7 linked regions of the Homo sapiens genome follow. The protein of the gene in region 5 interacts with the protein of the main gene of each other region in a biochemical or structural test. Each region holds a gene or a part of one and is shown on either strand. Other genes may lie near its edges.

Evidence for each region.
Region 1: the proteins of FRMPD4 (region 5) and SBF1 interact in a test that uses a peptide from one of them, tested with the Homo sapiens proteins (one large-scale study listed by IntAct).
Region 2: the proteins of FRMPD4 (region 5) and SLCO2B1 interact in a test that uses a peptide from one of them, tested with the Homo sapiens proteins (one large-scale study listed by IntAct).
Region 3: the proteins of FRMPD4 (region 5) and FAM110B interact in a test that uses a peptide from one of them, tested with the Homo sapiens proteins (one large-scale study listed by IntAct).
Region 4: the proteins of FRMPD4 (region 5) and PTH2R interact in a test that uses a peptide from one of them, tested with the Homo sapiens proteins (one large-scale study listed by IntAct).
Region 6: the proteins of FRMPD4 (region 5) and KCNA6 interact in a test that uses a peptide from one of them, tested with the Homo sapiens proteins (one large-scale study listed by IntAct).
Region 7: the proteins of FRMPD4 (region 5) and SH2D3C interact in a test that uses a peptide from one of them, tested with the Homo sapiens proteins (one large-scale study listed by IntAct).

The regions. Positions count from the first base shown.
Region 1 is NC_000022.11:50,458,036-50,461,569, forward strand, and holds part of SBF1 (myotubularin-related protein 5), read right to left. Parts: coding exon 3,488-3,534; intron 3,252-3,487; coding exon 3,124-3,251; intron 2,678-3,123; coding exon 2,499-2,677; intron 2,374-2,498; coding exon 2,237-2,373; intron 2,125-2,236; coding exon 1,917-2,124; intron 1,632-1,916; coding exon 1,435-1,631; intron 1,358-1,434; coding exon 1,220-1,357; intron 1-1,219. UniProt on the Homo sapiens protein: Acts as an adapter for the phosphatase MTMR2 to regulate MTMR2 catalytic activity and subcellular location. Promotes the exchange of GDP to GTP, converting inactive GDP-bound Rab proteins into their active GTP-bound form.
Region 2 is NC_000011.10:75,171,201-75,175,677, reverse strand, and holds part of SLCO2B1 (solute carrier organic anion transporter family member 2B1), read right to left. Parts: intron 3,300-4,477; coding exon 3,109-3,299; intron 1-3,108. UniProt on the Homo sapiens protein: Mediates the Na(+)-independent transport of steroid sulfate conjugates and other specific organic anions.
Region 3 is NC_000008.11:58,143,546-58,146,903, reverse strand, and holds part of FAM110B (protein FAM110B), read right to left. Parts: intron 998-3,358; 5' UTR 674-997; coding exon 1-673. UniProt on the Homo sapiens protein: May be involved in tumor progression.
Region 4 is NC_000002.12:208,404,859-208,410,034, forward strand, and holds the start of PTH2R (parathyroid hormone 2 receptor isoform 1 precursor), read left to right. Parts: upstream 1-1,933; 5' UTR 1,934-2,185; coding exon 2,186-2,260; intron 2,261-5,176. UniProt on the Homo sapiens protein: This is a specific receptor for parathyroid hormone. The activity of this receptor is mediated by G proteins which activate adenylyl cyclase. PTH2R may be responsible for PTH effects in a number of physiological systems.
Region 5 is NC_000023.11:12,722,473-12,725,023, reverse strand, and holds the end of FRMPD4 (FERM and PDZ domain-containing protein 4), read right to left. Parts: 3' UTR 501-2,551; downstream 1-500. UniProt on the Homo sapiens protein: Positive regulator of dendritic spine morphogenesis and density. Required for the maintenance of excitatory synaptic transmission. Binds phosphatidylinositol 4,5-bisphosphate.
Region 6 is NC_000012.12:4,807,529-4,812,666, reverse strand, and holds the start of KCNA6 (potassium voltage-gated channel subfamily A member 6), read right to left. Parts: upstream 3,334-5,138; 5' UTR 2,626-3,333; coding exon 1,036-2,625; 3' UTR 1-1,035. UniProt on the Homo sapiens protein: Voltage-gated potassium channel that mediates transmembrane potassium transport in excitable membranes. Forms tetrameric potassium-selective channels through which potassium ions pass in accordance with their electrochemical gradient.
Region 7 is NC_000009.12:127,775,867-127,779,904, reverse strand, and holds the start of SH2D3C (SH2 domain-containing protein 3C), read left to right. Parts: upstream 1-1,238; 5' UTR 1,239-1,277; coding exon 1,278-1,314; intron 1,315-1,973; exon of another isoform or gene 1,974-3,364; intron 3,365-4,038. UniProt on the Homo sapiens protein: Acts as an adapter protein that mediates cell signaling pathways involved in cellular functions such as cell adhesion and migration, tissue organization, and the regulation of the immune response.

The sequences.
Region 1 (3,534 bases), on a different chromosome or scaffold from region 5:
ACGCCTGTAATCCCAGCACTTTGGGAGGCCGAGGCGGGCGGATCACCAGGTCAGGAGATCGAGATCATCCTGGCTAACACGGTAAAACCCTGTCTCTACTAAAAATACAATACAAAAAAATCAGCCGGGCGCGGTGGCGGGCACCTGTAGTCCCAGCTACTCGGGAGGCTGAGGCAGGAGAATGGCGTGAACCTGGGAGGTGGAGCTTGCAGTGAGCCGAGATCGCACCACCGCACTCCAGCGTGGGTGACAGAGAAAGACTCCGACTCAAAAAAAAAAAAAAAAAAAGGTCAGGGCTGGGACTAGAAGCCACGACTACAGCTGAGTGAAGCTTGAGCCCCTGAGCATTGCTGGGCACTGAGGGGGACACGGGGAGGCAGCAGCCACTGGCACTGGGGATGGTCGGAGACGCAAAAGGGACTCTGTGGGAAGCACAGGCATGGGGGGTGCAGGGGCGGCCCCACCTGCAAATGCCACTCAGGGTTTCTGGCAGGGGTGGGAAGGCAGCAAGACAGGGCGATTGTAAAATGTAAGTATATAATGTGGTATCTGGAAAAACAAAACCACTTCTGAACTAGAGAACAGGTGGTCCGGACACAGGAGTGAGTGTGGGGCCTATCTGCCACCCCGTCCTGGGGCCAGTCTAGCTCAGTGTGTGCAGGGCGCCTGTGAAGTGTGCGTGGCGGTGGGGACAGAGACAGCAAGGCCAGCTCGGGCAAGGCCCAAGGAACCAGGACACACGAGGACAGAGGCCAAGCTGCAGGCAGAGCCAGGCCAGAGGCTCCAAAGACAGTCTGGATTGGGGGATGCAGGGAGGGTGGAGTGTGGGGGATGAGGAAAAACAGTGACACTGGGAGGGAACAGGACAGAGGAGCATCTGGGATGTTTCCAGGCTGTGGGAAATGGTAAGACAGAGCCGCGTAGAGGCAGCACCCGGAGGACCCTACAGGAAGCTGCAGCAGACGCAGAGGTGGAGAGCGGGCAGGACGTCAGGGCGGGCAGGAGGTCAGGGCACACACCTGGTCTGGGCACACACTTGGTCTGGACAGGCTTCCCGCCCCTGCCCCACGGCACCCGGAGGGCATGCTCCTCATCCCACACCCAAACATCCATGACCAGCGCCGTTTCTGCTCCTCCCTGGCCTGCCTGCCAAACCATAAATGCCACCACGGCCCCCCAAAGTGCCCCTGCCCCACCGTCTGCCCACAAGCACCCTCACCGTGACTGCCCATGTGGGCTGAGGAGAAGCCGCTAAGCGTGTTGCGTCCCGACGCGTCGGCGTAGCGGGGCATGGAGCTGACCACAGCCTGCAGGTACTTCTCCTGCTCCAGGCTACTCGAGTCCGCCTGGGACTGGCCTGGGGGAGGACACGGAGCTGAGGGAGGGGAGGGTGAGATAGGGCAGGGCAGGCACAGGGCAGGACGCAGGAGGTACCTGGAGAAGGTGCGTTCTGGGCCTTGAAGAGGCCGACGACACCTTTGCCATGCAGGCCTCCAGAGCGCAGCAGCACCGCCTTGGACCGCCCGCTGCGCCAGCAGACCACGGGGAAGCGGTTCTGGCGGTAGCAGCGGGACACGCGCTGCAGGGCGTTGTCCTGGACACTCTGGGGCACGATCAGCAGCCCTGGGTAGCTGAGAGGAGGCAGAGGCGTGAAGGTGGCTGGCGACCCCACCCGCCTCCAGGCTCACGCCCCAAGCAGGGCAAGAGGAGCCAGCCCATGGCTCCCAGCAGGAGGCGCTTCCAGCTCAGCCACGGGGCCCCCCAGCCACCCCCCAGCCCTGTGGCCCGTCCCTCTGCCCGGAGTCTCCCCCTCCACATTCCTTACATGACCAGAAGCCGTGGCCCAGGCCCACAGCGGGCAGGGAAGACACCCAGTCACGTGTCCACCACCCGGGCCAGCCCTGGCCGGCCCTCACCTGCGGCAGATGGCATACATGCGGTTGACCGGAGAAATGCGGAAGGGCTCAGACTTGGCCCGGCTCAGGCTGCTGCTCAGGGTGCCCAGACCGAGGCGCTGGTAGTCGCGACAGCAAGCCCTTTCCACCAGGCTGCTCATGGTCATGCGGTCGGAGGGCTTCAGGGCTGAGGACGGGGTCAGCGTGCTGGGCTCCAGCTCCTCCGACACTGCACAGGCCGGGCACACGTGGTCATCACGGGGCCACTCCGCCTGCCCTGATCCTCCCTGGCCAATGTCAGCATCCAGAGACCACCCAGGACTCCACCCCCACCCCTCCACCTGAGATCTCGTCCTCCTGGTCCTCAGGGGGCGGCTGGCCCCGGTGCTCCCAGCTGGGGGGGTTGTACTTCTTGCGAGTGACATGCTGCCGCCCGATGGTCTTCTTGGCGTTCTTGACCAGGTTCCGGGACAGGGTTCTGAGGCCCACGAGAGTCAGCAAAGGTGAGAGGAGGAGGGACAAAGATGAGCACAGGGGCCTAGGAGGGTTGGAGCGGGAACACGGCTGAGGCCCAGCTGCCCTGCCTGGGACCCAGATCCATACCTGAGGGAAGGACCCTTGTCCTTGGTGACTCGCGGTGGCCGGCCAGGTGTGTGGGCAGAGCCCAAGGTGAACGCAAAGGTGGCCCTGATGTCCGGCGGGTACCGCAGCTTATGCAGCTGCTTACGGAAGAGCTCGGCGCTGTCAGACCCCACCTCCTCGTCAAAGGCCATTTTCAGCAGCTGTGTCAGTAAAAGCAGCCCTTAGGGGTGTGGGTGGCCCCCCAGCCCCTCCCCCAACTCTGACACTGCCAGGCTCCCCTTCCCCTCGCAGCCATGACAGAGAGAGAAGCAGGCCCCAGGCAAAGGCCTGTATCTGTGTCACACGAAGGCAAGCGCTTGTGTAAACTCGAAATCTCAGTGGCTGTGAGCTGAGGCCTGGGTTTGCAAGGCACACCCAAGACACGGACTTGAGGGCCGGCGCCCCAAGGAAAGGACAAGGACCCAAAGACCGCACATCAAACAGTGGACATCAACTCAAGAGCCACAGTGAGGGCCCCAGACATGCAAGCGTAACAACAGGGCCACTGCTGGAGACTGGCCTAAAAATGGTTCATACAAGAAAGACCGGTTTGCAGGAGAAAGACCAGGGCGGGGGATGAGAGCCCCACCCGCGCACCGCGCCCCACCTGGAATGTGCAGGAGCGCAGCTGGAGCCCGTCCTGCAGGAGCTGGTCCACAGGGGTCTGGACGCTGATGCGCTTCTCCTTGGTCAGCGCAGCCACCGGGAAGGAGCGGACCACCACCTGCTCCCCAACTTAGGACAGGCCAGGCAGAGTCAGAAGCAAGGAAGGTAAGGGGGGGGGGGTCCCAGAATCTCAGGGTACCACAGTTATGGGGAATCCCAAGTGGGTGGGGAAGGAGCAGACAAAGGCCCGTTTCCCACGGGCACCCAGAACCCCCGAGAAAAGGGAGAGGGAGGCAGGGAAAGCCCATCCATCCCAAAGACCTGGGGGAGAGGGGGCGACAGGGCCAGAGAGTCTGCAGGCTCACCCAGGGGGTCCGTGGGCATCCCCGTGAAGATGACCCGGTACGTGGTG
Region 2 (4,477 bases), on a different chromosome or scaffold from region 5:
GGCCTTGAACCTGTCAGAGCCGACAGACCTTGTCTGATCTGCTGCCCATTAGACAGATAGAGACACTGAGGCCAGAAACCTTCTCGGGGGCACATAATTCTTGTATTACAAACTGCCAATCTCCCGGATACCTTTAAAAACAGCATTTACTTCTAAGAGGGTATTTAGGGGACCCCTGAGCCCTGAGCCTGGGAGGGGACGCCTGGTGAGATTTCAGAGTTAGCTCTGCCCTTCACTTTCTCCTCTTGCCCATTCTCTCGCCCTGCAGAAGATACACATCCCATGTCTGGGGGCCTGGACTTTCTGGCAGCCAATTCAGCCTCATTGGGCCTTTGCTCCTGGTTTATTCAACTCCTCATTGGTGGCCCTCCTGGGCCAGGCCAACCACGTTACTGCAAGCAGACCCGGCCAAGGCAGCCTCAGGGAGGTGGAGGAACAATTCCTCCCACATCAATATTTATTGCCTGAGAGCTGCTGGAAGCAGATCATCATGTTCTCAGCCCTTGTTTCTTTTTAAAGAACCTCTCACCCCCTTCCCTCCCCACTCCCCATCCCCAGTGTGCTGACAGAATGAATCCAGACAGCCAGACAGGTTCACAGCTGGGGAGCCAGGGTTTCAAAGCATCATAGAGACACAGCTCTTAAAATCTGAGTATCTGAATCATAGCAGCTCCGACTCAAGGACTCGTGCATTCTCAGAATCTGAGGCGCACAGGATATTGCTCCAGGAACCTAACCTCAGCATCTTACACAGCAGCACAGAATGGGGAAGTGGCTTGCTGCTCAAGGTCACATGACTGGCATGTGACAGAGCCCAGCGTGGTCTCCCACCCCTAAACTTTGCTTCTGTCACCTATCCCACCCGTGGCTCAACTGGCATTCTTCTCTGTTCAAATTTAGGACTCAATTTGGAGATCATCTGTAACCAGCAATATAGGCTCTCTCTCTTTCCTTTATAAACATCACTCCACCTTTAAGTTCTAGGAATTTCATCTTCTCGAAACTTTGGCCTGAACTAGGCAGAATCAGAAAGGCCCATCTGTAGTTCCAAACTGTCTTCTTCCCCTGAAACTGCTCACTCCCTGGCAGCTGCTTCCCCCTGCCTCTGAGACAGCTGCACCCAATCCCAGCATCAGCCCAACTCATCACTGTCTTGGGGACATCCCATAGCAGGGCAGCTATGTGCAGTCCCCAACCTGGGTAGCTCCCAGATGCACCTCTATCCCCTCACTGCCAATGCACGGCTTCCACCTGGCCTGGACCACCATCAGAGCTGTCTCATTTCTCTCCCCGCCCCCACCCTCTCCAAACATATTCAAATGCATCAACCTGCCACAGAAATGCTCTTGCAGCAAAAACATTCAACAGGATTTTTATAAATTGTCCCTTTGAAATTAGAATTACTTAGCAACAAGTAAGTTACTTAATTTATGATTGTCTATGATTTCTCAACAGCCACCTCCCATACTTGAGAAGGAGGAAATCTAATGCACAAATTTTCAGAATGTAATGAAATGTGTATAAGTATTAAAAAAATTAATGAACTTGACATTACTGGCTTGTAATTAAACTTTTAGGCCTGGCACGGTGGCTCACTCCTGTAATCCCAGCACTTTGGGAGGCTGAGGCGGGCAGATCACCTGAGGTTAGGGGTTCGAGACCAGCCTGGCCAACATGGTGAAACGCCATCTCTACTAAAAATACAAAATTAGCCAGGCATGGTGGCACACACCTGTAATCCCAGCTATTTGGGAGGCTGAGGCGGAAGAATCGCTTGAACCTGGGAGTTGGAGGTTGTGGTGAGCCGAGATCTAGCCTGGGCAATAGGGTAAGACTCTGTCTCAAAAAATAAAAATAAATAAATAAACTTTAAAAATTGTTTCTATTTTGTCATTTTCTTTTTAATTTGAAGCCAATTTGTTGTTTTTCAGGCCTCGTGTTTTTGTGGGTATCTGAAAAACTTGGAAGTCCCTGGCCCAGAATGGCTATCCTGCCTGGTGGCTCACATGATCCTGTCCTCTCCTACCAGTTTTGTGACCCTGGGCAAATCCCTCCACTGGGCTGGGCCTCTGTGTCCGCTTCTGAGGAGAGACCCACCTGCCCCAAGAGCAGAGGAGGAGGATTCTAGATACCCCTGGAGCATCACACCGGTCGTGACTTCTCCGTGAGTCTGTGTCCTCCCTAGACTGTGCCCGCTGGAAGGGTGGAGGCCACGGACTGATCTTCAGATCCAGCCTGGGGCCTGCACTCCATGCATGTTTCTTCCCTTCACTGTCCCCGAAAGGGCCAGGTTTATTTCTACAGCCAAATCCTTCATGCAGGGTGCTTCTGTGCCTAGAATCTCTGTTGCTCTCTCCTTTCTGTGCTTCCACAAATCCTTCAAAGTCCAGCTGAAATCCCTCCTCTTCAGGGAAGTCTTCCCAGATGATCCTACCCACCCTCCCAATTCTTAACATTCCTATGGCACATTCAGAATTTACAAAAACTTTAAGTGATGAGCACAGAGGCCATATTGTAGTGGTTAGTATGGGGGCATGGGCTCAGAAAGGTGCGGGTTCTCATCCCAGTGCTGCCTTGCTTGCTGGCTTTGTGATCTTGGGTAAGTCACTTTCCAACACTGGCTCTGGGTCTCCTCAGCTGTGGAGACAGCAGGTGATATTCACTGTGCAAGGCTGTCAGAAAGATGTGATGGAGCCCAGGCAGAAAGTATAGTGCCCAGTGGGGATGCAGTGTAATTTTTTTTTTTTTTGAGACGGAGTCTTGCTTTGTTGCCCAGGCTGGAGTGCAGTGGTGCAATCTCGGCTCACTGCAACCTCCACCTCCCAGGTTCAAGCGATTCTTCTGCCTCAGCCTCCTGAGTAGCTGGGACTACAGGTGCCCACCACCATGCCCGGCTAATTTTTTCTATTTTTAGTAGAGACGGGGTTTCACCGTGTTAGCCAGGATGGTCTCGATCTCCTGACCTCGTGATCCAACCGCCTTGGCCTCCCAAAGTGCTGGAACTACAGATGTGAGCCACCACGCCCAGCCGAAGTGTAATGTTACAAAGGAGAACAAGTGGGTGGTGCTGGAGCCTGGACCCAGTCAGGTGACATGGAGGGAGCTTACCTTCCTGGCAGGTGAGTCTGTGACTGCTAAGACCTTTCGCCGAAACTGAAGCTCACGTTTTTCCTTGGGCATTTCCTTGGGGAAGAAGAAGTAGGGGATGGCAGCCAGGGCCACTGCACCGGCAGCGATGAGGAAACCCAGCCACCAGGCACCCACCCATCGGGGGTCCTTTATGGTCAGGCTGATACCACCTGGAAGAGAAGAGCATGGTGACATTAGGGTCAGGATGATAGGCTGTCACTTCTAAGCCGCCATCCTGGGACTGGCCTCTGAGACATGAGGTGGCCCAGGCTGGGAGTCAGGAGACCTGAGTTCCAGTCTGCTCTGCCAGGTGTGTCCTGTGTGACCCTGGGCAAGTCCTTGGCCCTTTCCGAGCCTTGGCTTCTTCAACTACCAAGGCAGTATAGTGCAGTGGTCAAGGCCATGGACTCTAGAGGCGGACTGCTGGGTCTGAATTCCATTACTAACTCATAACCTTGGGCAACCTACACAACCTCTTTGTGCCTCAGTTTTTGTCCTTTGTGAAATATAGATATTAGTAGCTTCCAAATCATAGGACTGTTGTGAAAATTAACGAAATAGATGTGAAGCACTTAGAAGAGTGTGTGCCATATAGGTACCTGCTCCTCCTCCTCCTCCTCTTCCTCCTTCTCATTACTATTGTGATTATTATTCTTAAATGAATGTTTAGGATTACTGTTGTGTTTCTCAGACCTTCATGATGATTAATATCCCCAGGGATGTTTGTCAAAAAATACCTGGCCTTACTGAAGACCCACTTAGAATGACCACAGAGTGGGGTGGGAAGGTGACCAAGGAACCCGTACCTTTAACAAGTTCCCCAGATGATTTTGATCCCCCACTAGGTTTAATTGGGACTAGATTATCCCAGGTGTACCTCCTGGCTGGAACACACAAAGCTCCCGTCATACTTCTTAATCACAAGGCTGAGTTGTGTACATTTTCCTTCAATTTCCACAGCATCCAAAAATGCTTCATAAAAATACAAATGAGCTGGGTGCAGTGGCTCAAGCCTGTAATCCCAGCACTTTGGGAAACTGAGGTGGAAGACTCATTAGAGGCCAGGAGTTCGAGACCACCCTGAGCAACATAGTGAGGCCCTGTCTCTACAAATAAATTAAAAAGTTACCCAGGTGTGATGGTGCACACCTGCAGTCTCAGCTACTCAAGAGCCTGAGGTGGGAAGATTGCTTGAGCCCAGGCATCCAAGGCTGCAGTAAGCTAGGATTGTGCCACTGCATGAGGGGCAGAGTGAGACCCTGTCTCAAAACAAAAACAAGAAAAACCAAATGCTCCTTGATGTACCAACCCCACACACAGAGCTGGTTCCCCTGGTGCTTGATCCTAA
Region 3 (3,358 bases), on a different chromosome or scaffold from region 5:
GCAGGGGAGGGGCAGAGCTACTGCAGGGGATGGCCTTGAGGGGCTTCACGCTGGTCACCTTGCGGATGTCCGAAGAGCTGTGGGACACGTGGAGGAAGGACTCGGCTGACTGCTCCAGCAGTCTCCTGCCCACGTGGGAGCCGCCCTCCTGCGGGCTCCTGCGGCCCTGCGTGGGGTAGACCTTCAGGGACTCCGCGAAGGAGTGACGGTGCAGGTCAGTGGCTTCCGACCGGTGGGGCGGCCAGTTGCGGGAGCTGTGCTTGTGCCCCGAGCCCGAGCTAGAGCCCTCGGAGCTATTGATGATGTTCTTCAGGATCTCCAGCTTCAGGTTCTCCCTCTGCACGCCGCTCTCGGTCTTGGCGTGGTTGCCGAACACTTTGAGCGTGGGGCTGCCCAGTGCGCGCTTGGCAGCCGGGCACACCGGGGGCTTGGCCAGCACGGCGGGCTTCACGGGCTCCTGCTTGGCGTTGATCACCTCCTGGCTCTTGACGTACTTGGCCTTGTCGGCCTCCAGCCTCTCCACGGCGCTGAGCCTCTTGGGGTTGGGCTCGGCCTGCCTGCGGAAGTAGTCTGGCCCCTTGTTCAGGATGCGCAGGGGCACAGCAGAGGTGAAGGTGCCCGCGGGGCTGACCGGCTTCACCATGCTACCTGTCTGTAGGGTCTCCGTGGGCATGGTGGGCGGTCTTTCCCCGGCAGCCGTGTTGGATGCTCTTCTGGGCGCCTCCGCAAGGCCTGAATAGACACATGTACATGAAGCGCCAAGGGCGGCGGGTGCAGCCTGGGAGCGAGTGTCAGCAGCAGCGGCCGCAGCAGCGCCTCATCTCACAGCTCATTAACCGCCACGGTGGCTTTCATACACTTTTCTCCCCTTCCAGGCGGCCCTTGCACAAAAAGGCCACAAGCCACAAGTTCCTTTAATCTGCTTCGCTGCCTCCTTTCTTCTCCCTGAAGGAGGTGGGAGTCTCCTCCAGGTCTTTGTGTTCAACTGCAGGCAGAGCTGAAACACAAAACAACCAACCGCGGGTTAGGAGGGGCGGGTGACATCACGGCTCTAGCAACAGAGAAACCCCGCAGCGCCCCCGCCCCGCCCCTGCGCGGCCGAGGGTCGTGGGCCGCAGCTCAGTAGCTGTTTTCCCGACCGCGCGAGGGGGACGACCCGGGCCTTGCGCCCCCGCCTGCGCCGACGCGCGGCAGCACAACGCTGTGCCGGGAAGAAAGAAAGGGCTGAGGTTTCCCACGCGCGAACTCTTCCAGCTGCCTCCGGATTGGTGAGATCCGCCTTCTGAACACGCCCGGTTGGCATTTCTCAGCTCAAAACCCAGCAAATACTTGATGAACGTAGGAATGAGGGCTTAGCCAAGCCCTGTTCCCCAGCTCATTACATGCCACTGAGTTCCTACGAATCCCTTCCATGCCCCCCGGTTGCAACGTCGTGAATTATCTCTTTTGCAATGAAGCAAAACTTCTCCCTCTGTACTACCAATTTCTCAGGAATACTTGCAACAGTCACTTTTTTAACTTCATAAACTGAAAAGGGCAAGAAATGGGATTGGCAGCAAAGCTACAAAGTTTAAAAAAAAAAAAAAAACCTCAACACGTTTCAGTTATCTTACTTTGGCCAACCAATATATTTAAAAACTTTCTCCTGAAAACCACAAATGTGTATGGAGTTCCACCCATTAAACACAAGCTTATTTTTTTTTAACATTAGAAGATCCATAGAAATACTTCCAAATTTACCATATGAGTAGATAATTTGATTGTCCCTAAGTTATCCATAATTTTTCATACTTAATGAGCAGAAATCAAAAGTTTCTTCATGGTATGTATATTCCCAAATCCTCTACAGTACTAGGAACAAAGTCTTAAAAGTGTCCAATCATACCTAAAAATATGTTACTTTAATACTATAGAAAACTTGGGTAATAGGTAAGCTTTCATGGGACAACTTGACTACCAAGCCAACAACAACAATAAAACCCACTTGTCAATAGTTGAACGTTTATCAATATTCCTACTGTAATTCTGTAAGGAGTCTTTTTATTTCATATGCCATATAATGTAACTCTTACCCTGCAGCCCCTGGAAACAATTCCTCCCATAGCCTGTTACTGCAGGCAGAGAACATTTACAAATGCATCAGCACTCCAAAGCAAGGGGCTAATGACCTTAACAGCATCTTTGGTTATAATTAGGAATGCTAAGAGAGTAACCTATTCAACTAACATGCCAAATAACTAATTTACAAAATAAATAAAGTCATATTACAACCACATCTGCTGGTATTTCTCCTTATAATTTCCTGAAATTCTTAAATCTGTAAATGCAACCCATCACCATGTTTTGTTAGAGATAATTTTAGTAATCTGTGAAGGGATTTGTTCTAATAAAAATATTTTCCTGTGCAAGATTTGAGAAACCCCAAGGCAATACCTACATTAACAATTTCCTTTAATTGTGCGGTTCTATTTTGATACCTCAATTTAGTATAAAAAACAAAAAACACCTCCTCCCATTAAGATGAAATGAGATTGTTTCTTTGAACACATTTTGAATGAAATGCCAGAAGGGAGCCCCGATTCCTCTGGAGGCACAATCTCATCCTCTTTACAGAAGAGACTCAGAGCCAGAACAGGCAGCAGAGCCTGGGCCAGGATGCAACTCCGAGGTCATCATACCCGGGACCCTTGGGAGAGGGCTGACCCCAGGACAATACCAGAAAGTTTGGGGGCACAGTGAGGGGCAGGACCAAGATCTGCAACCTTCAGCTTTGTGCCTGAGGACTAGAGTGGGAATACCACCTAGTGGGCAGTGGGAGACAAAGTTCATCTCCCTTCTCCTGGGGCACGAGTTAGTTGGACAAGATTCCTTCAATCCCTTCGTACTGTAAAATCGTGAGGTTCTGAGGATCTAAGAATGAAGGAATTACTTCCAGTTTCAAAATGGCGTGTTGGAATATTGGTGAATGACTGAATTTTTCTATGGTCCCGCACTGACTGTTCTTAGGCCAACGCTCTCTGAAGATGAGTTGTAGTTCTCATGTAACATTCCTCCTCATGCAGGCCTGTGCTTCTCTTCTAACCATCTTCTCTTCTAGTTCTATCATATTAGGACCAGAAGCCTAAAACACCTACACCACTGGCGTGGCCTTCCATGCACACCTGCGTGTCTGTTAAGGTAGGCTTTGGTACTGTTGGCAACACTGAATAAAAAGCCTGACTGTCGATTCACAAGAGTGAGGAATACCAGTCTATCTTCTAAGAAGCATTTTCCAGAAAGCTGCTTGTCTTCCTTGCACACTGCTTTCTCTATTCATGTGGCAGACACCCTCAAGACGGCTCCTCCAGCACTCACAATT
Region 4 (5,176 bases), on a different chromosome or scaffold from region 5:
GTTCTTTCCAAATTTAACAGTCAGGCACTCAGAGAAAAGACTGCCAACCATTTGATGGAGGTGTTTCACATCTGAGTTTGATGAATGGTATTCCACCCTGGATAAACTGGAGAGATGCTCTATTTAATTGATTGCAAACCCTACTTTGATTTCTAAGCCTCTTCTATCAGAGCAGCCTTACATGGAGCTAAAGTTGTGATTTCAGAGGCATTAGCAAACTTTTGTCCTCCACCTCCCTTCAAAATATCTTTCCCATTAAAAAGATGGATTCTTTAATAAGTGATGTTGCATTAACTGGTTAGGTACTTGGAGAAATTGTTACATTACCTAAAAAATTGATACTTTAAAACATTAAATTATTTATTTAATGTTTGAAACAGTAAAATTATGAAACGGTAGAAAAGAACTAGAAAAAAGATCTGATGAAAAGATTTTCTAATTTTTAGTATGCAATTCCTTTCTCGCATAAAAGCTAAGGAAGAAATTATAAAAGAAAAGACTGCTAGATTTAGATACATAAATTTAAAAAACCCTCCGCACTGATCAAGATATTATAAATTAGGCCAAAAACAAAGTTGAAAAACATTTTGGTATTTATGTCAGAAAAATATTTTATATTGTAAACATAGACAGTGCTTTTCTACATAAATAGGGAATACTCAAACTTACCACAGCCCTTTGCCCATTCACAGACTATGATCACAATAATAATAATAATATTCATCATCACCAAACAATGCTAACGATACTAGCTAATACTTATTGAGCATTTCCTTGGACTTTATGTTTGTTTACTCACTTAACTTTTCCAACAAAATTTTGAGGGACAGCAGTGGGCTGAATGTTTATGTTCCCCCAAAATACATATGTTGAAGTTCTAGTCCTTAAGGTGATGGCTTATTAGGCATGGACTTTGAGAGGTGATTTGGTCATGAGGGCTCTGAGATCAGTGCCCTTATAAAAGAGACCTCAGAAAAATCCCTCATCCCTTCTGCCATGTGAGGTTGCAATGAGAAGACAGCAGTGGTCAATGAGGAAGCGGGCTTTTATCAGACACTGAATCTGCCAGCACTTTGATCTTGGACTTCCCAGCCTCCAGACTGTGAGAAATAAATCTCTGATGTTTATAAGCCACCCAGTTTATGGTATTTTGTTATAGCATCCAGAGCTGATTAAAGGAGGTTCTCGCATTTCTCCCATCTTACAATTGAGGAGATTAAGACAAAGAGAGGCCAGTATGTAATTTGCTCAGGGTTATGCAGCTAGCACATGGCAGAGCCAGAATTCAAAGGCTTTCTTCCTTCAAGAGGCAAGAACAAGAGATTTTAAAAGGTTGTAATACAATTGGCCAATGAATGTCTAAAATAGTCAAACTTAAAAATAAACTAAAAAAAAAGAATATTAGTTGTCTTTTTTTAATGCCAGGATTCAAAGCACAATACCACACAAAGAACTTTTGACCCACAAGAAATATATACATTATTTCTACTTAACACACACCGAGTATTATTATAATGGTTAGGAGAAAATGAATCAGAGCATTTTAGAGAGCTTTAGGACTGTCCAGCGAACAGCCCAGACGCAGGGCCTACCTGGCCTCGGGAGCCTTTAGCCATCTTATCGCTGTCCTCGGGGCCGATGGTCAGCGCACGCAGGACAGGAAGAAACTTCTGGATCACTCCTGGAAGACCCAGGGCGCCCCTAGAGACAGGGCCCTGGAACCCGGGACAGAGTGGAGGGAAGCAGAAACATTGCGAATCGGGGGTGGCGGCAGCAGCGACATGAGATCCTTTGCCCTCCGCCCCCTGGGCTGCGGGACCCAGTGACTTCGAGGAGGAGCGCGAGCGCAGCCGCGCGGGGCGCACCCGGATCCGCCTGGGGCGGGAGCCGCCCCCTTCCCGCCGCAGGCGGCGCGGGGCTGCGAGTCAAGTCCAGGACTCGGGCCAGTCTCTCCGGAAGACAAGACCAACCTCGCGCCGCGGCGCAGCAGCACGCGGGTTCTGAGAAGCGCGTGGCTCCGGCGACAAGACCCCAAGCACCCTCGGCCGGTGGCCCGGGCCCGACCACCCCAGCTGCGCGTCGTTACTGGCCACAAGTTTGCTCTGGGCCAGCCAAGTTGGCAACTTGGAAGCTTCTCCCGGGCTCTGGAGGAGGGTCCCTGCTTCTTCCTACAGCCGTTCCGGGCATGGCCGGGCTGGGGGCGTCGCTCCACGTCTGGGGTTGGCTAATGCTCGGCAGCTGCCTCCTGGCCAGAGCCCAGGTAAGAGCCAGTGCTCCGCGACACCTGTTTTCGCGGAGCCTCCGGCGGGGACTCAGCTTTAGCGACACGGAGGCCAGGTGCGCGCGAGAGCTCATTCATGTTCACACGTCCACAAACGCCCCGGCACGCACCGAGGCGTACCCGGCAGGTGCTGGCAGGCAATTAGTGGAGGGAGCTTCAAAGATCTGCTTTAGTGGAGTGATGTCCTGGGGCCGGCACTGTTTAGACCAGCATCCTGGCATCCGCAAAGTAAGGGGATATTTCCGAACAGCGGAGTCGTGGATCAAGAGTGTGAGGCTGGGAAGGTGAAGGAACTTTTCTTACTCTTAAACTCCGTGGTCCCCATTTAATTAATCGAAATGACTTTTGTCTGCTGGTAATTTACCATCGCTTTTGAGAATTTAAATTTACAGGATCGATTGTGACCACTATCTGAAAGAATAATTGGCTGTCTGTGATACAGAATCACATACATTCAAGTTAGGAGACAGAATAAAAATACCAAAATACAGCTCATTTGTTAATGTTAAGCGGTGGCTGTCACTTTTGTACTGCTAATATCATTTAGAGATTTTCTGGGCGATCTTTCACAATGAAGCCTCTTTAATGTGCAAGGCACAATTCATACGCACTTTTTTTTTTGAGTCAAATCAAATGTAGGGTTTACAGTCAGCTTTTCAGATGAGCTAGAGAGATGCGTGTAGTGGTGGATGTTATGCAGTTCAAGAGCCCTGTGAATTTAAACCGAATCAAGGTATTTCTCTCCGGTTCGGTAGGGGGTGCACCTAGACCGTCAAATGAAGGCCCAATAAAAAATTATTTCACCGTGAGAATTCAAAGCAGTGATTTATGTGTTGATACTGTCTAAACTTAATACTATGTTCTCGGCTTTCAGATGACTAGTTTAAATTTCAATTATTCTAAAAGTGCAGTTTAAAAAACCTATCTGTTAAAGTCATAACCAGAGACATTAAAACTTAAAGGGGATTTCTAGGCTAGGTGCCACGCTAAAAGTGGGCTTTACTTAACATGACCAAGATGTTTCATGTAGATTTATTTTGTTAATAAATAAATTTTGTTAATAAACTAAACAATTTGTGTGTCATACATTGACTAATAATATTAGCAATGGATAGCTGAAAGTAAGATACACTTAAACCTGAAAAAATTCATCAAGTTACCAGAAGGAATATGAATGCATGGAAAAAAATTTGGTGATAAATTTCCATGATCGTTATAGAACTCTGGTAATCTCTACTATACTTCCTACATTTTTATCTCATAAGATATTTGGATAATATGCTTAAAAATGGCATCTTATATACAAGAGGCAACTGAACTCTAACCGTTTATTTTATTTAGTGTTCTAGATTACTTTTTGTAAGGAAATGGGGAGGTATTATTTAGTACAATAAGAAAAAAAAAAGGCTTGGTGTGGTGGCTCACGCCTGTAATCCCAGAACTTTGGGAGACGGGAGGATCTCTTGAGCCCAGGAGTTCGGGGCTGCTCTGAGCTATGATCATGCCACTGCACTCCAGCCTGGCAACAAAGTGAGACCCTGTCTTGAAGGAAGGAAAGAAAGAAAAGAAAGAGAAGAAAGGAAAGAGAGAGAGAGAGAGAAAGAGAGAGAGAGAGAGAGAGAGAGAAATAAATAATAAATAAATCACCATGGGATTGTGGGCAGAATATTTTCTTTTGCTTTCAATAAAACAATCAGGACATTGAATACTTCTATAACTTTAAACCAGGATTTCCCAACCTTGGCATTGTTGACATTTTGGGACATATATAATAATTCTTTGTTTTGTTGGGGGTGGGTGTGTTGTCCTGTATATTGCAGAGTATTTAGCGCCACCCTGTCTCCTCTATCCACTAGATGCCAGTAGCCCCCCTCCCCCTAACTGAGACAACCAAAAATGTCTCTAGATGTTGCTGTACATAGTTTGGAAGGCAAAATCACTCCTGGTTGAAAATCATTGCTTTACACGGATTTCCATTTATATCTATAGATTATGAATTGCATAAAATGACAGTTTGTGGTATTATATTACATTTGCCGAATTTTTGACATTTTAAAGTCTGGAGGTTAAATTCAAGTGATTTACATTGACAAACTGATACATTTTATGACCTTCAGTTTCTTCATCTTCAAAAGAGTCATATTGGGCTAAGATTCTTTTAATTCTATAAGTCTTGGTTTATTACTTTTAGGTTACAGTCATTCTCTACTCTGAAATTCCATTAGTTAACCTGGAGTATAATAGAGACTAAATACATTCTGGGTATTATTTACTTCAAATATCAATTGCTGATATTATTAGCTTAAGTATGAGAGACAAGGTATTTATGAAAAATGAGGCTGGCTTTATTAATTTTTTTAGCATACCCAGTTAATGATGAATATATTGCTAGCTAACACAGATATTTCAAAAAAATTATAACATATTGATAGAAAACCAAAGGGAACTCACCCAGGCAGAATGAGCTTGTGTAGAGTAAATATTTAGTATTCAGTAAACACTGGATCACACCATAAAATAGATGATATAGACCAGTGCTCATCAATTGTTTTAAGGGTCTCTGTGGTTTCTGGTTGGTAAAGATATACTTTTGTCTCAAAGCACAGTTCAAAACCCGTGCATTCATACATCATTACAGAGCCCAGCAATGCATTTTCTATAGTCAGATTATCACATGGTAATGAGGACCACTATATAAACATGTTCAGTATTTTCTTTACTGTGTTAGTGGATCCTCCTGGTAACAGACTGTAGGATGGAATTGGGGTGCTAGAGGTTTATTAGGGGAGGAGGTAATGCTTGTGAAAGTTGAAAGGGAGAGGGAGAAGGATTGGACAGGGGTAACCTCAGACCGGCAAGCAAATCTGACAAAATTTTTTCCAACTCAAAGGAGAA
Region 5 (2,551 bases):
GACAATGGTTATCTTTGGAAGTTGGGTTTAAGGGGATTATTACTTTCTCCATCATTTATTTCTGTAATGTTTATTTGATAATATTAAGGAATTCCCAATTTTTAAAATGCAAAAACGTCATTGTGGTTATGTTTAAAAGTTCTCACAGGATATTCTTACTGAAATATTCATGGGCTAAGCACTATGATGTCTGGGACTTGCTTGTAAATCATACAGTGGGAGAGGAGGTGGGTAGAAATACAGAAAATAAGATTAGACATGAATCGGTAGGTAATGAGTCCACATGAATTCATACGATTGTGTCTACTTTTGTTTGAAAGATTTGTGATAAAAGATTAATAAAAATGGTAGGAGATAAACTTGGCAAAGTAGACTGGGGACTAAACATAAAGAACCGTGAGTATAAGGAAGGTTTATTCTCCAGTTCAGTGCTCTCCAGATTTCAGTGAATGCAACCCTACCTGCGACAATATTGTCACATGCATGCACCAGGCATATGCTTATTTATTCATTCATTCATTTATTTATTTAAAATTATGTACATGTACCATTGTACTATTATGCCATTATAAAACATACACAAACATAAAAAAGCTAGATAAAAATAAGCACAAGTATTGTTCTAATATGTTCTTCCTACACTCTATGGACCTGGACCCCAGTTAGGAGCCCCATGCTTAGTGAATGTGGGGGCCCCTTGAGGTTTTCTGAATAGCAAAGAGTTTATTTATAAGAAACAGAAACTTACTGGCGCAGTAATGGGAGGTTGATTAGAAGGACCCAGAGCTACTTCCCTGAGGCTTCTCAAAGAACTCCAATGGACTGGGAAGTTGTTCTAACTAGATACGTAACTTGAACAAGGATGGCCACTTCCTTGTACACTTCTTTTACATATATGCAATACACATAATGTGTTCTGCACACAGTCAGGATACAATATGCATATAAAACAAACATTCCCCCACATATTATCTTGGGCAATATATTTAACACAACGATTATGATGATAATAATAGCTAACATTAATTGAATACTTACTCTCTGCCAGGTATTGTGGTAAGAACTTTACATACACATTTTTACTCAAAACTCATGACAACCCTATGGAAATCGATCTTATAATTGATTTTCATTTTATTATGAGGAAATTGAGACTAGAAAAAGTAGCTTTCCCAACATAAAAGGGCTAGAAAATGGCAGAGTCAAAATTTTAATCAAGATGTTTCTGACCCCAAACCCCATATCCGTAAGAACTCATCCATATTGCCTCCAGAGAGAATAGTGTCCAAACCAGCAGATTGTTGTGATGATTAAATGAGATAATATAGTTAATATGCTTAGCACACTGTCTGACATAGGGCACACATCCTATTAATAGGTTAGGATTTTAGTACACAGAATGATATTTACTAAGATTTTCCACAGTAAACACCACTAATATCTCTCAATATCAAAACACCAATATTTATAATTATAATTGTAATGAAATAATGTTTTATTATTTAGTTAAACATTATTTATAATAACACACACCTAAACTCCTTTCCTTTGCTGCCATCCATAACCACGTGCGGCTTTTGTTGTTGAGTCCCTGTGGAATGGCTGACTAGAGAGAGATTGCAATTGTGGACTGTGTTATGACTCCTTCTCAGCAGGCTACAAAAGTAGAAATATTTGCACCTGGTGTACTCCCATCATGTTCTTAAGGAGCCACCTGTCTAAGTAGGAGTGCATGTAACTTGAGCACTGAATGACCCAGGAAATACATATATACATATCGATTTTATTTTATGACTGCAGGGTACTTTTAGAGATGTGACAGTCCTGGAAAGTTCTTTGCATTCCATTGGTTTCACTTGAACTGGTCAAATATACCACTTCCATTTCTTTCTTTTTTTTTTCAGATTTCATATTTTTATCAGCCAATCCAGATTAAGTATTTATTTAATAAATACTTAACTATTTACTCATGGCTCCCATGATTACAGTAGCCATCTCTCCCTGATTTTCTGGAACATCCAAGATTTGAGATTTTGTCCCAGTACTACGCTATAATTCCAAATTTGACTGGCAGCCTTAGCCTCTGTAGAGGCGGTGATGCATGAAGCCCTATGCTGAGAGCTGTGATCTGAGATGAGACTCACAGGTGCTGGTGTGTGGTCTGGTCTACATTACTGAATCTGTACTTAATTTTGATGATCATTAAATGTTCCTTTTTTTAAGTTTGCAAATACTTTACTAAATGTCCTATCACTCTAAAGGGAATTTTAAGTTTCGTAGTTGAGTTGGGATGAGGGGAAGATAATGTCTTTGGTTTGCAGATTTTTGACATTTAGTCAAAGCAGATCTTTCCATCAAATAATTAATTTTGGTATTATTAATTCCATACATTTTATGTAATGAGATATTCTATAACTCTAGGTGTTACCTAGGAAACTGCCCATCATCCCCTCTGTTCTTCTCCCCGGGAAGTTTTTTAAATGCTAGAACCACTGTGAAGAGCATTTGTGCTGACACAGTAGAATCCATCCCCACCAATTTGTAGCCCCAG
Region 6 (5,138 bases), on a different chromosome or scaffold from region 5:
AAGCCTTCAACAGCAATCCTAAATCAAACTCCCAGGAAGCAAGGTAGAGGGCCAGAGAAAATGTGGGGAAAATGAAGGAGAAAAGGCTGCCATCTGCAACACGATTCCTCTGCCCCTTTGAGAAAACAGTATCTGTTTAAGTGGCACCTTGCTTCAGACTGTGGTCAAGCCAGTTGCTTGACTCTGCTCAGACATTCCTCCTGGCTCTGTGGTTCCCTTTCTCCAGTTCTTCTGCTCAGGAAGGCACTTGCACAAAGAGTATTTGGCTCTGAGAAGGAACCTTCCTGGAAGCTGGAGAGTCAGGGGATCAGAGTGGGGAGAACTAAATGTAGACCGAACACCAGTGCCTCTTGTGCTGGGGCACACTTTGAAAAATCCATTGGCCTCTTTGGTCCTGGACTAACCCCGTGTCCTCCAAGTGGTAAAGTTTGATTGTATTCTCTAATTCCATCCAAGTTTAGAAACGAATAACCTATTTTGAGGCTATGCAAATAAAGACTCTACCAAGGGTCATCTGCAGGAGGACCAGTGATTGTTACAGGGCACTGGAATAACAGCAAGTTGAGTACTGCTTCTGTCCTCCAGCTTCTTCCAGTTACCAAGTAGCCTGAAGCTAGGAAACGCACATGACCCAAAGCAAAGAACACTAAGGAGGGAGCGAAGACTCAGATAGGGCTGGTTTCCATCCTGTTGACATTGCTGTTCCTTGAGATATTGTAAGTCCCAGACATGAAAAATCAGTCTTGAGGGAAGGTCAGACATAAATGTATATCTCATTCATATGACAGAAGCTGGGCATGATTGGGTGGCACCGCTGGAATTTCAAAAATGTCACTTAGATGGATTAACCTTGAATGCTGCAGGGATTAAGCAACAAGGTTGATAGTCCAGGTATTTGGTCCTGGATGCCAGGTAGTGGGTGTAGGGGAGAGAGTCAAGAAGTCAACTGAAGCTAGAGTGAGTAGTGGAAATGAGAAGGAAGCCTAAGAGACTGTTAGCTCAGTGCTCCCCTCCTGCAGGCCCTGCCTGCATGGGTCAGACCTCCGTGAGCATTCTTTTCTCTGCATAGGCCCGATGTGGTGTAGGAAGGTAGCTGGGTCTCCGTTCCCGGTTAGCCTCGGGGAAGTCAGGCTTGCCAAGTCCGTTGTCAGTTGCCCTCAGGTCCGGCGCAGGCTGCCCACAAGTGACGTGGGTATACTGGCCTTGCTCCTCCTGCTCCGTCTCCCGGTGGTAGAAGTAGTTGAAGTTGGAGACGATGACGGGCACAGGCAGGGCAATGGTGAGGACCCCAGCGATGGCACACAGCGAGCCCACGATCTTTCCCCCCACAGTCATGGGGTACATGTCCCCGTAACCTACCGTGGTCATTGTAACCACTGCCCACCAGAAGGCATCCGGGATGCTGGGAAAAAGCGAATCGTCATCGTCAGCCTCTGCGAAGTAGACGGCACTGGAGAAGAGGATGACCCCGATGAAGAGGAAGAAGATGAGCAGCCCCAGCTCCCTCATGGAGGCCTGCAAGGTCTTGCCCAGGATCTGCAGCCCCTTGGAGTGGCGGGAGAGCTTGAAGATGCGGAACACCCGGACCAGGCGGATGACTCGGAGGATGGCCAGGGACATGGCCTGCTGCCCATTCTGGCCGCCTCCTCCACTGGCTGGTTGCTGCTCCTGCTGCTGCACCAGCTCAGTGCCCAGGGTGATGAAGTAGGGGAAGATAGCCACCAAGTCAATGATGTTCATGATGTTCCGGAAGAAGGCCGGCTTGCTAGGGCAGGCGGAGAAGCGCACCAGGAGCTCAAAAGTGAACCAGACAATGCACAGCGTCTCCACCAGAAAGAAGGGGTCTGTAAAGAAGGAGCCCCCAAGAGTACTGAGTGAGGAGGAGCCCCCGGTCCCCATTTCCCCAGGGGTGATGCCATGATGAAATGTGTAGGAATCGTCTTCATCCTCCTCTTCCTCCTGACTCCCCCTGGAAACTGGGGAGACTCGACTCACACCACCATTGTTTCCACCTCGACCATCTACACGGAACTGGGGTAAGGTCTCCAGGCAAAAGATGACTATGGAGATGAGAATGACCAACACGGAGACGATGGCGATGCCCCTGGCCGGCCCAGAGCTCTCTGGGTACTCAAAGAGCAGCCACACCTGGCGCTGGAAGGGCTGGGAGGGCAGCGGCTTCTCGTCCTCGCCACCTTCGGGCAGGCAGCCCTCGTCCTCCCGGAAGGCCGCCAGGGCCTCGTCCCCCAGCTGGTAGAAGCGGATCTCCTCCAGGAAAATGTCCAGGGGCACGTTGACCGGCCTCCGCAGGCGGCCCCCAGACTGGTAGTAGTAGAGGATGGCGTCGAAGCTGGGCCGGTTGCGGTCGAAGAAGTACTCGTTCCTCAGGGGGTCGAAGAAGCGGACTCGCCGGCCAGGGTCTCCGAGCAGCGTGTCCGGAAACAGCGACAGGGTGCGCAATTGTGTCTCAAAGCGCAGCCCGGAGATATTGATCACCAGCCGCTCGCTACTACAGCAGCCCCCGCCCCCGCCGGCCTCCGGGAAGTCTCCCGCATCCTGTTGCTCTCCCTCCGGCCCACGGACCTCCCCCGGCGCCGCCAGCGTAAGGGATTTCTCCGATCTCATGCCCCCTCGGAGGTGCGCTCCCCGCCACTAGGACGGCGCCCACGACACAATCTCTGGAGCGCGGCACCCGCTCCCCAGCTCCCGGCTGCGCCCTCTTTAGGGTGGGGCCCGCGCTCCTCCCGGTTCGCGGTCTGACCTGGCCGTTGGGTCCGTGAGCCCTAAAGCCCTGGTCCCTGCAAGGCTGGGTCTGGGGAGGTGACCTGGGCGCTGGGGATTTGGTTCTGCGCTTCCCGTTACCCGCGCCCGGGTGCTAGAGCTTACTGGGATGCCCGGAACCGCACACAGGCGCGTGTGAAATTGGCTGCCCGAAAAGACGCGTGGCTTCGCCCCCAGCGGTGCCTGAGACCCGGCTCCCGGACGCAGAGGTCCGCCCTCCAGCCGGGCTAGCTCTTCCCAGTTCCCACTGCGCTCCTCCAGCCGCTCCGGACCCCCGGCTGCCGCTGGTACCGAAGCGCCAGATGCGCCTCCCTCCGGCTCGGCAAAGACTCCTGGCGGGGCTCGGCCTCCGCCCTGCGTCCACCGCGGGGCTGGGTCCGGCCAAGGTCGCGGTTCCGGCCGCCACAGCCGCCACCTCCTCCCTAGGAGCCGCGCCGCAGGCCTCGCAGAGGGCCCGGGGCTGCCCCGGCGCCCGAGCGCGGGGACCCACCTCCCCACGGCTCAAGGCTTCGCTGCCGCCGCCGCAGCTGCAGCGGCTCGGCTCTCCGCTCTGCCCTTCCTTCCCAACACACACTCTCCAAGTGACGTGGCAGGCCCCGCCTGCTGCCCCCTCCCACCCCACTCCCACATCACACCCCTCGCCCAGCCAGGGGCTGCCGCGAGCCAGGGCGCCATGGAAATAGACGCACACTTGCCTCACCAGTAAGCTTTCCCGCGCTCTCCTGGCACGCCTCTCGCTTTCACACGTTCACATTCGCGCCCCCCTCCACAAGCGCCGGCACCCTAATACCACACCCCCTCCACCCCCGCAGTCGGCTCTTCTCATTTCAATTTACCGAGTTGACCTGCGCAGTGTATTTCATCAATAAGAAGACACACCCCGCCCCACCACACAATACGGAGCACTGTGCATCCACTCATACAGAAATCTAAAGAAAACATTAAATCATACATTCTTCTGTCTTCAGGAAGACCCGTTTGCCAACCTCTCCAATATCTACAGGAAAAAAAAAATAGAGAAAGTATTTTTGAGATGCCTTGAGAGCTTCCGATTTAAATTCCAATATAATTCTCCGTCTACCTTTGCAAGCCTGGGAGGGCGGGGCTGCAACTCTCCCAGAATTGCAAAGGGATGGTAGAGAAAGGGTGGCAAGTCAATCAATGCCTTTCCCATCAGAAGATTTCCAGGGGAGTCCTGAGAGCCTGAGGCAACAACCCCAGTGAGGAAGGACCCAGAAGATGGAAGCACCTCAGAGATACCTCAGCCCAGGGCACAGTGCACCCTGGGGATCCTTTGCTCCCAACCACCCCGAAGGATGCATCTGGAATTTCTGCTTATTGGGTGACCAAAAAAAGGGAGAAGAGGGTGAGTGGAAAAGGGGTATGTAAGAGTGTTGATTGAAAAAATAATAGCTACATTTACTGGGCATTGAATATGTGCCAGCCACATTCTAGGTGCTTTCCCAGAAAGATGTCCTCTCCTTGTAGGCCATGTTACAACAAAGACCCCTTTGGCAGTACTGGAGTAGGGCAAAGTTTGTTGTTAGGGACCAGCTGACTCTTCCCTAACTCTCCAGCAAGAAGGTGATAAGAATGGTTTTCCATCCATTTCTGTCTTTCTTCACGAGACCAGACAAGTTGGGGTCTGGTAGAGGAAGACTCAACTGATCTTTTCAGACTGACACTTCCAGGTAGGGTTGACATTTGCTTCTCTGTGCCTCAGTTTCCTCTTTTCTGGCTGGCTGTAGCCAAAATGAATTGGCTAACAACTACAAAGTGTTTTTGTGTAGCTTCTGGTGCATATTAGATCATTAGTATGCATTCATTGAGGTTAATGATGAGAATGACACATAAAGGTGCTCTCAAACCACAGGATGCATCTGAGAGTTCTTTGTATTGCACGGAGTATTTTAAAACCACAGTGGTTCTCAGCAGCATTCACTCTCAGAGAGTTGGAGGAAGGAGAGAACCAAGGCTCCTGGATGTGTCGGGAAGGGATCAGGTGTTGAGTGGGTAAGAAATGTGCTAGTATTAGAACTCACTGCATGCTCATTCTCCAGTCTTGCTCCTCACCAGTTGAGCCAGGCAACAGCCTCTGCTCCCTTTCTGTGCTTGCACAGCTGATTTCTGGCACCAACGCCCTGTGGGCTTTTTTGATCCCCCAGGATAGAAATCAAAAGAGATCACAGCATACAGTAGCAAAGAGAAAGATTTTATGAAAGCTTATGGACATAAGGGACCAAACACCAAGAAAGGAAGTGGGTTGCTCTCCAAAGTCAAGGTGTGGGTTCCCTTTGTGGAGGTCTGCAGTAAGGGGAAGTCAGGGCATGTAGAGGTGAGGTTTTTCGGGCACATGT
Region 7 (4,038 bases), on a different chromosome or scaffold from region 5:
TGTTGGCCAGGCTGTGCTCAAACCCCTGACCTCAGGTGATCCACCCACCTCGGCCTCCCAAGATGCTGGGATTACAGGTGTGAGCCACCGCGCCCACCCTGGGGCTGTTACTGTTAATGGAGGATGCAGGAAGTGCCCTATCAGATGGCAGTGGACTCCTCTCACAGCCTGGGTTGCCAGCCTGGGGTCCAGGATAAAATGTTGAACCCCCACTGGTTGGCAGGTTGGCTGCATACCTCCCACTTCTCCCCATTCTAGAAATCAGGTGACTGAGGCTTGGGAGGTGGAAGTAGCTGGGATTGGCAGCCCTGGGTCTTGGGCCCCGCCCCCAGCCCCAGCAGCTGCTGACACCCTTTGCAGATGTCCAGGATGACCCGTGGAGGGGAGGTTGCATTTCCTCATCTCGGTCTGCCCACCTGAGCATGCACACATGGCAAGTTTGTAGGGTGGAAAGGCACCAGCCCGTGGGTTAAGGGGCCTAGAAGGGAGAGTTGTGGCCCAGTCTGGGCCAGCAACCAGCTGTGTTACCTGGGGAAATCCCTCTGCCTCTCTGTGCCTCGGTTTCATCATCTCTGTCCAGTGAGTACAGTGGAACACATGATGACATCTCCCTGATAGCTTGGAAAGTGGTGACTGTGCTTTGGTAGGCACCGATTCTGTGCCAGGCCCTACACCCATGGCTGAACCCGATGAAGTGGGCACTGCGAGTACCCCCGGTTCACAGGGAGGACGTCACACCGTGGCGAAATGGCCAGCCAAGAGTGGAACTTGGGTCTGGGGGGCCCAGAGTCCACAGGCCTGACCACAGCACTCTCCCATCTGCAGCTGCCAGTCCCTCTCCTGGGTACAGAGGCTGAGAAGCAACTGCCCTGCACACAGGCCTGACTCCCCTCACCTTCCCAGCCTGATGGCCAGGCCCCCTGACAGCTGTTGGCAGGTCCCCAGCGGCCCCCAGCCCACTGGGCTCCGTTCCCAGAGCCTGCGGCCTGCTCCTTAGACCTTCCAGGTCCCAGGGGCTTGCGGTCTGGCCCCTGCCCCTGCTGCTGAGGCCAAGGAGGCGGCCCACAGGGGCTGGGGCTAGGAGAGGCCCCAGCCCCCGCCCCCTGCGGAGAGGGTGGGGAGGGTGGAGCTGTGGGAGTTTCACTGGTTTAAAAATACACAGAGGAAGCGAGTAAGAGAAAGGGGAAGGGGAGGTGGGAGAGGCACCTCAACTTTGATGTCCCGAGCCTTGAGTGGCCACTCGCAAGCTGGCCAAGGGCTTCACACAATTTGCCAAGATGACAGAGGGGACCAAGAAGACCAGCAAAAAGTTCAGTGAGTGTGGGGTGCCGTCTGCACTGTCCTCCATCCCTGGCTCTCCTCTGGGCCTCTCTCTGCATCTGTTTCTTCATCACTGTCTCATTTCTGTTTTTCTCTCTCTCACTCTTTTTCTTTTTTTGTTTTTTGCTTTTGGACACCAGCGTCTCTGTCACCCAGGCTGGAGTGCAGTGGCACAATCTCGGCTCACTGCAGCCTTGACTTCCCAGGCTCAAGTGATCCTCCCACCTCAGCCTCCTAAGAAGCTAGGCAAGTAGCTAGGACTCCAGGCACAATTAAATCTTTTTTTTTTTTTTTGGCCAGGTGCAGTGGTGGCTCACGCCTGTAATCCCAGCACTTTGGGAGGCCGAGGCTGGTGGATCACCTGAGGTCAGGAGTTCGAGACCAGCCTGGCCAACATGGTGAAACCCCTCTCTACTAAAAATACAAAAAATTAGCTGGGTATGGTGACACGCACCTGTAATCCCAGCTACTCAGGAGGCTGAGGCAGAAGAAACGCTTGAACCCAGGAGGTGGAGATAGCAGTGAGCAGAGATTGCACCACTGCACTCCAGTCTGGGCGACACAGCGAGACTGCATCTCAAAAAATAAGTAAATAAATAAAGTAAAATAAAACTGATTTTTTTTTTTTTTTAGAGACCGGGGTGGGTTCTCACTTTGTTGCCCAGGCTGGTCTCGATCTCCTGGGCTCAAGCGATCCTCCTGTTTCCCGCCTTGTTTCTGTTTCTCTTTGTCCATCACTGTCTCTCTGCAGACGTCTCTGCTTCTGGGCATCCCGTGGCTTTCTGGCTGTCACTCTGGCCCAGCATCTCTGTCTCTCTGACTGACTTCGTTCTCCATCTCTGTGCTTCTCTTTATCCGTCTCTTTGTCTCCCCACCGCGTCTCTCGATCTCTGCAGTCCACTGTGTCTCTGGCTGTCTCTGACCTTGCGGCCGGGCAGGGGAGGCATTCGCACACTCCATCCCCTGCCCGCAGGCCTGGGCTCACATGGGATCTCAGGTGGGGAGTTACTGGGGCAGCAGAGGGATGGGGGCGTCATGGGATCCCAGGTGGGGAGTTACTGGGGCAGCAGGGGGATGGGGGCATCATGGGATCCCAGGTGGGGAGTTACTGGGGCGGCAGGGGGATGGGGGCATCATGGGATCCCAGGTGGGGAGTTACTGGGGCGGCAGGGGGATGGGGGTGTCATGGGATGCTGTCTCACATTCCCAACAGCAGTGAGGCTGGGACCCAATACTTGGGTGGGGAAAGAGCACAGAGGTACTAGAATCAGGCTCCACGGTGAGGGGCCACACTTGCCCACTGCTCTGTTTTCCTGTGTCTGTCCTTCCCAGTCCCAGCAAACTTTTTCTGTCTCCTGATTCCTTTGATCTGACCCCACCAGGGTGGGGGACATGTGGCGTAAAGGGCAGTGATTGTGACTGCATTTCCCAGATGGCAATGCTGAGGCGATTATGACTGCATTTCCCAGATGGCAACGCTGAGGCCCAGAGACTTGCTTGAGGTCACACGGGCTATTGAGCAGGGCCCAATCCCAGACCCTGGACTCTGGGCCTCAGTTTCCCTCCCAGCCCCCACTATCTCCTCCAAACGTCTGGTGCCCAGGAGGCAAAACCAGTGGTGCTGAGAAAGAAGGCAGTTGGGGGTCCTCCCTCTGGCCACTGATTCAATTTCCACCCCCACCGCATGCAGCAGAGCGGCCACATTTGCCGACACGTTTCTCAGGAGACCAAGGCAATAACCAAATAGGGCCGGCAGGGCTGGGAAGCAAACCCCTGAGCACTGACCCAGCTGTGCTGAGCCCTGGGCCTGTGTCCAGGCTCAGCCATGGCCTTGCTGTGTGACCCTGGGGGAGTCCCTCCCCATTGCTGGGCCTCAGTTTCCTCCCTTGTCAACTGGGGGCATCCTACCTGCATCCCAGCACGGGTGCGAACAGCTGAGGAGGTGGAGGATGCTGAGGATGTGGAAAATGCCGGAGTTTTACCTTTTTGCTCATCTGGAGGCTGTGGGGAAGTCAGTTGGTGGTGGCTGTGAGAAGGGACAGTCCCACAGCTGGGGGCAGGGGGAGGGAACTCACATACACCCCCGCAGAAACCAGGAGATGGTATCACCCCAGCCGTTCCTCTTGAGTCTGGAGCTGGGCTCAGCTGACAGGAAGGAGAGAACCACAGACAGTGCGACCCTCAGGCTCACAACAACCCCCTCCTCATTCCACCCCCACCCCAGGTGCACAGAGGCTGGCTGGAACACTCCCCAACCCCCTACATGAGCACAAAACACGCACACCTGCTCCACCTACCAGCGGTGTGAGCTCGGTTCATTACACTGCTCTGAATCTCAATTTTCGCATCTGGAAAATGGGGATTAAACTGTGTCACTGAGTTATGCTGAGAATTCATGCAGCACATTTGGCAGATGCAGAATCATTTTCAGAAATTTTTAAATTATTATTATTAGTGGCCAGGCACGGTGTCTTACCCCTGTAATCCCAACACTTTGGGAGGCCGAGGTGGGTGGATCCCTTGAGGTCAGGAGTTTGAGACTAGCCTGGCCAACATGGTGAAACCCTGTCTGTACTAAAAATACAAAAACCAGTTGGGCGTGGTGGCACGTGCCTGTAATCCCAGTTACTCGGGAGGCTGAGGCAGGAGAATCGCTTGAACCCAGAAGGTGGAGGTTGCAGTGAGCCAGGATTGCACCACTGCACTCCAGCCTGGGTG